Linked DNA regions of Homo sapiens: all the other regions are linked to region 3. Evidence: fine-mapped expression QTL. A gene starts in region 3. Each other region holds a variant in brackets. All regions are shown on one strand. Distances are between the middles of the regions.

What was found. PIP is the estimated chance that this variant, and not a neighbour inherited with it, causes the effect. A credible set is the group of variants that fine-mapping cannot tell apart.
Region 1: its variant is the best candidate, but not a certain one, in a credible set for the expression of TMEM273 in whole blood (INTERVAL, PIP 0.86).
Region 2: its variant is the best candidate, but not a certain one, in a credible set for the expression of TMEM273 in whole blood (TOPMed, PIP 0.89).

What each region holds. Positions count from the first base shown.
Region 1 is chr10:49,125,021-49,127,789 of GRCh38, forward strand. All of the region lies in intron 1 of FAM170B-AS1 (FAM170B antisense RNA 1), which reads left to right. Among named protein-coding and RNA genes, the nearest start is that of FAM170B-AS1, 4.6 kb to the left of the region's middle. The variant C/A (reference allele first, on the strand shown) is at 1,424.
Region 2 is chr10:49,223,167-49,225,935 of GRCh38, forward strand. No RefSeq gene overlaps it. Among named protein-coding and RNA genes, the nearest start is that of TMEM273, 36 kb to the left of the region's middle. The variant C/G (reference allele first, on the strand shown) is at 1,451.
Region 3 is chr10:49,187,230-49,189,998 of GRCh38, forward strand. It overlaps TMEM273 (transmembrane protein 273), which reads right to left and starts at 1,162. Exons shown (of 7, transcript NM_001288740.3): 1 at 1,065-1,162. The coding sequence starts at 1,107.

The DNA of each region.
Region 1 (2,769 bases), 62 kb before region 3:
CTCTCCCATACTGATTTTTTAAAAATAAAACTTTCTGTGTCCGTGTGTTCTCATTGTTCAATTCCCACCTATGAGTGAGAATATACGGTGTTTGGTTTTTTGTTCTTGCGATAGTTTACTGAGAATGATGATTTCCAATTTCATCCATGTCCCCACAAAGGACATGAACTCATCATTTTTTATGGCTGCATAGTATTCCATGGTGTATATGTGCCACATTTTCTTAATCCAGTCTGTCATTGTTGGACATTTGGGTTGGTTCCAAGTCTTTGCTATTGTGAATAGTGCCGCAATAAACATACGTGTGCATGTGTCTTTATAGCAGCATGATTTATAGTCCTTTGGGTATATACCCAGTAATGGGATGGCTGGGTCAAATGGTATTTCTAGTTCTAGATCCCTGAGGAATCGCCACACTGACTTCCACAATGGTTCAACTAGTTTACAGTCCCACCAACAGTGTAAAAGCGTTCCAATTTCTCCACATCCTCTCCAGCACCTGTTGTTTCCTGATTTTTTAATGATTGCCATTCTAACTGGTGTGAAATGGTAACTCATTGTGGTTTTGATTTGCATTTCTCTGATAGCCCGTGATGGTGAGCATTTTTTCATGTGTTTTTTGGCTGCATAAATGTCTTCTTTTGAGAAGTGTCTGTTCATGTCCTTCACCCACTTTTTGATGGGGTTGTTTGTTTTTTTCTTGTAAATTTGTTTGAGTTCATTGTAGATTCTGGATATTAGCCCTTTGTCACATGAGTAGGTTGTGAAAATTTTCTCCCATTTTGTAGGTTGCCTGTTCATTCTGATGGTAGTTGCTTTTGCTGTGCAGAAGCTCTTTAGTTTAATTAGATCCCATTTGTCAATTTTGGCTTTTGTTGCCATTGCTTTGGTGTTTTAGACATGAAGTCCTTGCCCATGCCTATGTCCTGAATGGTAATGCCTAGGTTTTCTTCTAGGGTTTGTATGGTTTTAGGTCTAACACGTAAGTCTTTAATCCATCTTGAATTAATTTTTGCATAAGGTGTAAGGAAGGGATCCAGTTTCAGCTTTCTACATATGGCTAGCCAGTTTTCCCAGCACCATTTATTAAATAGGGAATCCTTTCCCCACTGCTTGTCTTTCTCAGGTTTGTCAAAGATCAGATAGTTGTAGATATGTGGCGTTATTTCTGAGGGCTCTGTTCTGTTCCATTGATCTATATCTCTGTTTTGGTACCAGTACCATGCTGTTTTGGTTACTGTAGCCTTGTAGTATAGTTTGAAGTCAGGTAGTGTGATGCCTCCAGCTTTGTTCTTTTGGCTTAGGATTGACTTGGCAATGCAGGCTCTTTTTTGGTTCCATATGAACTTTAAAGTAGTTTTTTCCAATTCTGTGAAGAAAGTTATTGGTAGCTTGATGGGGATGGCATTGAATCTATAAATTA[C/A]CTTGGGCAGTATGGCCATTTTCACAATATTGATTCTTCCTACCCATGAGCATGGAATGTTCTTCCATTTGTTTGTATCCTCTTTTATTTCCTTGAGCAGTGGTTTGTAGTTCTCCTTGAAGAGGTCCTTCATGTCCCTTGTAAGTTGGATTCCTAGGTATTTTATTCTCTTTGAAGCAATTGTGAATGGGAGTTCACTCATGATTTGGCTCTCTGTTTGTCTGTTATTGGTGTATAAGAATGCTTGTGATTTTTGTACATTGATTTTGTATCCTGAGACTTTGCTGAAGTTGCTTATCAGCTTAAGGAGATTTTGGGCTGAGACGATGGGGTTTTCTAGATATACAATCATGTCATCTGCAAACAAAGACAATTTGACTCCCTCTCTTCCTAATTGAATACCCTTTATTTCCTTCTCCTGCCTAATTGCCCTGGCCAGAACTTCCAACACTATGTTGAATAGGCATGGTGAGAGAAGGCATCCCTGTCTTGTGCCAGTTTTCAATGGGAATGCTTCCAGTTTTTGCCCATTCAGTATGATATTGGCTGTGGGTTTGTCATAGATAGCTCTTATTATTTTGAGATATGTCCCATCAATACCTAATTTATTTAGAGTTTTTAGCATGAAGAGTTGTTGAATTTTGTCAAAGGCCTTTTCTGCATCTATTGAGATAATCACGTGGTTTTTGTCTTTGGTTCTGTTTATATGCTTGATTACATTTATTGATTTGCGTATATTGAACCAGCCTAGCATCCCAGGGATGAAGCCCACTTGATCATGGTGGATAAGCTTTTTGATGTGCTGCTGGATTCGGTTTGCCAGTATTTTATTGAGGATTTTTGCATCAATGTTCATCAAGGATATTGGTCTAAAATTCTCTTTTTTGGTTGTGTCTCTGCCCGGCTTTGGTATCAGGATGATGCTGGCCTCATAAAATGAGTTAGGGAGGATTCCCTCTTTTTCTATTGATTGGAATAGTTTCAGAAGGAATGGTACCAGTTCCTCCTTGTACCTCTGGTAGAATTCGGCTGTGAATCCATCTGGTCCTGGACTCTTTTTGGTTGGTAAGCTATTGATTATTGCCACAATTTCAGAGCCTGTTATTGGTCTATTCAGAGATTCAACTTCTTCCTGGTTTAGTCTTGGGAGGGTGTATTTGTCGAGGAATTTATCCATTTCTTCTAGATTTTCTAGTTTATTTGAGTAGAGGTGTTTGTAGTATTCTCTGATGGTAGTTTGTATTTCTGTAGGATCTGTGGTGATATTCCCTTTGTTGTGGGGTTGGGGGAGGGGGGAGGGATAGCTTTAGGAAATATACCTAATGCTAAATGATGAGTTAATGGGT
Region 2 (2,769 bases), 36 kb after region 3:
AGGCAGTGCCCTGGTGGGGACTTTGTTCGGGCTCCAACCTCACATTTTCCCTTGGCATTGCCCTAGTAGAGTATCTTTGTGGGGGCTCTGCCCCTGTGGTAGGCTTCTGCCTGGGCACCCAGGCTTTCCCATAAGTACTCTGAAATCTAGGGGGAAGCTGCCAAGCCTCCTTCATTCTTGCTTTCTGCACACCTGCAGGCTTAACACCACATGAAAGCTGCCAAAGTTTGTGGTTTGTGCCCTCTGGAGCAGCAGTCTGAGCTGTACCTGGACCCCTTTGAACTGAGGCTGGAGACAGGGTGGCTGGGATGTGGGGAGCAGTGTCCCAAGACTGCTCATGGCAATGGGGGCCTGGGCCTGGCCCTTGAAACCATTCTTTCCTCCTAGGCCTCAGGGCCTGGGATTGGAGGCTGTCTCTAAGATCTCTGAAATGCCTTTGAGGCCTTTTTCCCATTGTCTTGGATGTTAGCACTTGGCTCCCTCTTAGTTGTACACATCTCTCTAGCAAGTGGTTACTCCAAAGGCTGCTTGGATTCCTTCTCTACCACAGGGCCAGGCTGCAAATTTTCCAAACTTTTATACTCTGCTTCCCTTTCAAATACAAGTTACAACTGTAAGCCATTCCTTTGCTCCTATATCTGATCATATGCTATTAGAAGTAGCCAGGCCACATCTTGAATGTTTTGGGGCTTAGAGATTTCTTCCACCAGATACCCTAAGTCATCACTCTTAAGTTCCAACTTCCACAGATCCCTAGACATGAACACAATGCAGCCAAGCTCTTTGCTAAGGCATTACAGGGATGACTTTTACTCCAGTTCCCAATAACTTTCTCATTTTCATCTAAGACCTCCTCAGCCTGAACTTCACTCCCCATATCATTATCAGCATTTTGGTCACAACCATGTAGCCAGTTTCTAAGAAATCCCAAACTTTCCCTCATCTTCCTGACTTATTCTGGGCCTTCCAAACTCTTCCAATCTCTGCTCATTAACCAGTTCCAAAGCCACTTCCACTTTCTCAGGTATCATTATAGCAATGCCCCACTCCTTGGTACCAGTTTTCTGTGTTAGTTCATTCTTGCATTCTTACATTGCTCAAAAGAAATATCTGAGGCTGGGTAATTTATAAAGAAAAGAAATTTAGTTGGCTCACAGTTCTATAGGTTGTACAGGAAGCATGGTGCTGGCATCTGTGGCCAAGAAAATATTACTCTAACAATGTGATACAGATGTTCCTCAATTTATGATGGAGTTGCATCTCAATAAAACCATCTAAGTTAAAAAATATTGTAAGTCAAAAATGCCTTTAGGCTGGGTGTGGTAGTGCATATCTGTAATCCCAGCACTTTGGGAGGCCAAGGCAGATGGATCACTTGAGGCCAGGAGTTCACGACCAGCCTGGCCAACTTGACGAAACTTCATCTCTACTAAAAATTACAAAAATAAGC[C/G]GAGAATGGTGGCACATGCCTGTAATCCCAGCTACTTTGGAGGGTGAGGCACAAGAATCTCTTGAACCTGGGAGGACAAGGCTGCAGTGGGCCATGATCACACCACTGCACTCCAGGCTTGGCAACACAGTGAGACTCTGTCTCAAAAAAAATGTATTTAATTCACCTAACCTACTGTACATCACAGTCCAGCCTAGCCTAGTTGAACGTGCTCAGAACACTTACATTAGCCCATGGTTGGGCAAAATCATCTAACACAAAAAACCTATTTTACGATAAAGTGTTGAATATCTCATGTAAAAGTATCATACTGCATATCACTAGCCTAGGAAAAGATCAAAACTCAAAATTCAAGGTACTGTTTCTACTGAATACATATGGCTTTTGCACCATCATAAAGTCAAAAAATCTTACATCAAATCATCTTAAATTAGGGACCATCTCTACTTGATAAGGTTCCTCTGGCCAAAAATCTTTGAGCACCAAATCGAAAAGTGGTGGCCTACTGATTTGGCAGCTTCCCATTCTGGGGGTTATGGTCTCATGGGACCATGATATCATCAGCAAGAAGAGAGCCCCACTGATTGTTGAAATGCTCCCTAGGTGGGCTCCTATACAAACACCAGGGAAAAATTCCCGGCAGCTCCGCTATGTTACTGCTGCTTCCTGATAACACCAGAGGGCTCCTAAAATAGTTCTCAAGTAGATGTTGTGACTGTCAGATATGTAAATCGAAGGGTAACAAGCAAAATGTGCTGGACCTAGGAGCTCGGTGCTAAGAGGGTGGGCAAGGGGTGGTCGGACACAGGCTGCCCTGGAGCCAGCAGGAGTTAGCTCAGAGGAGCCTCCAGGAAATGAGCACCGCAGCTTCCAACCAGGTCTCCTTCCATGCAGACGAGACTGCGGGCCGGGCCACATGTACTCACGTTACTCAATGACTCACAGACAGTGGCCAAGGGACAGCTCAGGGCCATCTTTAGCTGACAGGCTCAGTGTCACTTCAGTCCATGCCCGAGCCCTCCCCAAGAGAGCCCACTCTGTCTCCAGCACCACTGCTCCCAGCTCCACCCAGGCCTCCCTCTCTGAAGTGGGGAAAGCCTGGGAGCTCTTCCTCTTTATCAGCCCTGCATCTCCTGCTGTCCTGCTGACCAAGACACTCTCTTCCTGCTGATTGTGATGTGTTTGTGGAAATCCACCGGTTTCTGCTGTATCATGACATTCTATTCCTACCAAGCCAACATGACACCCAAAACATTTCCAAACATGCATAACCATACACAGACCTTCTCACAAGATTTATCTTCTGGACACATTACTTA
Region 3 (2,769 bases):
AGTCACTGCCAACGGCCCGTTTCCATGTGTAAACTGATGGATGATGTGGCTGGCTGTCTGTCTGACATGCTGACTCCCAAGGCCAAAGTCTTTGCTCTCCCCTGCTTAGTGCAGACTTTAGATGGAAACCTGCCCACAGCACTAACTTTGCCCGCATTCAGGATACAACCTATTGGTCTGGAGACACAAGATTTAATCTGGAGACAGACTGCTTCCCATTGAGTCTCGGCCCAGTGCAAGTTCTGGGAAGGAACGTCTTTGTATATATGAGGGACGTATGCTGCCTTTTTAGGAAACAACAGTTGATATCAGAGGGGACTTCGTAAAGGCATGTGTCTCTCTCCATCTCTGTCTCCATCTATGCATATTTCTAACCATCTCTCTATGTCTCTGTCTGTCTCTCTCTCTCTCTCTTTGAGTTTCTTCCTCTCTGTCTACTTCTCTGACTTTATATTTCTCTCCTCCATTTGGCCCTACTTTGTTTTAGTCTTTGCCTCTCTCCTTTCTTCCTTCTTTCAAGGAATGCATTAAAGATAATTTTTAAAAACAAAGATACCTCTGAGTAGCAAAGAGTCTGCTTCACTGCATGAGAATTCTGATTCAACATTAAATGTATACCAGTATCTACATGCCTACATGTTCTCATTCTATGTCAGTATTTTGATTTGACTTAATTAAATTTAACTTAACTCTCTTGAAATCCCAAAAAGTAAACATGATTATCTCCCATCTCATTGGTTCAGAAAGTTAGGGAGTTTCAGAAGCTTATTCTAGTTTATCAGCAATGGAGCCACAGTTTACACCCAGATGTTTCTAGATCCCAAGCCCGAAGCTCCTTCTGCCATGACCCTTCCTATTCTCCTTTAGCCCAGAAGCATTTGTAAGTTGCAGCTGGAATGAGACAAACAAGATCATTGCTCACTACCAGATCAAAGTGAGAAACATCATCTGTGTAAAGGGACAGAGTTATGTTTTAGGGATCAAGCCCCAGTGGGCTAAGGCTCCCCCAGTTTCCTGCCCACTGAGGCTCCCCCGGGCCAGAGACCCCCGCAGTCCCCACTTACCCAGGAGGAAGAGGATCCTCAGCATGCTGACCCCCAAGTTCATGCTGGCGCTCTGCTCTTGGCTCCTGGCTCCTGGCTGCTGGCAGCGCAGGCACAATGAGCCATGTGACCCAAGGCTCTGGGGACAGGACAAGACCCACGTGACTGATGGGGAAGGAAACCACTGTCACAGCCAGGAGGCTGTTCAGTTCCTCTCAGCCTCTCTGAAGACAGGGCTGAAGGAAGCCCCTGTCATTCTGGACTCCACCAGAAGCTGGCTGTGATTAGACCCATTGTACATGCTGGGGTATTATACCCAGTGTTCTCTCCTATAATCTTCCCCACAGAGTGTGGGAACAAAGCTCGGTAAGGTGCGGTTTCTTGCCTAATGACCCATGCTAGTAAGTCTCAGAGAGGAATGTGGGCAAAGCCGGTCTGCCCTGCAGTCCAGCCCTTGCAGTAGCCTCTGCCTTGGAGCAGAAATAGGAAATGCCCCTCCAGCCAATAGTCCAGCTCGGTCACTGTTTTTGTGCCATGGGAGCCTCTGAGTCTAGGAATGCCTATCACTCTCTTCTCAGAATAAGATTTTTAAATCCCCAAACTAAAATAGATAAGGATCATAGTAGAAATCAGTAGTATTAACACACAGTTATCAAAATATTTTGTTAAACTTGTGAAGTAGAAATATACATGCTTATTTATCCACACAGTAAATAGCAAGATCTGGCAGCAGATGAAACAGCTACCACCATCTCGACATGGTGATAAATGGAATCGATATTGAGAGATACCTGTAACAGCTGGAATGTGGATGGAAAGACCTGTGATTCCTACCAGAAATAAAGTTACTGGGTGGTAATGTTTCTGTGGTTCGTTTGCCACACTACTATTAGAAGAAGATGCTAAGTGTTCCTTAGAGGTTAGAGAACAGAGATGTAATTTTTTTCCCATCCAAGTTTACAGGCCCCATGTCCAGGTCCTTAGCCTGGAGGAACTTTGGTAGTCACACAGGCTCAGCCAGCAGGCTGAAGGCCTTATGCTCCTGTACTCCTTTATACCTGCACGTTGTCACAATGCTTAGATGTTCAGCCAAAAACCCAAATGTGCAGGAAATGTCACTTTTTAAAATATAAATCAACTTAATGACAAGTCTTGAGTCCCCCACCCAACTGAGCTGGCAGAAATCGAGCTCTTTTCATTCTTGGGCTCCCTCAGTCAAATCCCTAACGGTAGCAGCCAACACCGTGAGCACTTGCTACTGAGCCCAATGCCATCTTAGCATGCAACCTGTCCAAGTCCACGCAGCAGTAAATGTGAGAGCTGGACTCGAAACCCAGGCCTTTGGCTGGCAGCCTATGCCCCTCAGGCTGCATGTGCCCTCTGTGTACAGGTACCATCCCCTGCCAAGGTCCAGCCAGAGGCAGTCCGATTGCCCTGGTGCCACAGATGCCCCCTGGGTTCTTCTGCATGGCTGCTGTGGCTCCTTCTGAGTTTCACATAAATAATGGACATGAGAGGAGAAGGCTGGTCATGAGAGAAGCAATTGGCTTCATCTGGGTGCCTTCAAGTTCCATCTGTCCACACTTTATTCATTTGATGAAATTAAGATCAGTTTCTACCTGCACCAAGAAACATACTCTCTTATTTCTCCTGGAATATGTGGAGTTTTCTTAATTTTGCCCCAGTTCATGGGAACATGTGTAAGAAAAATATTTCACTTTCCTCT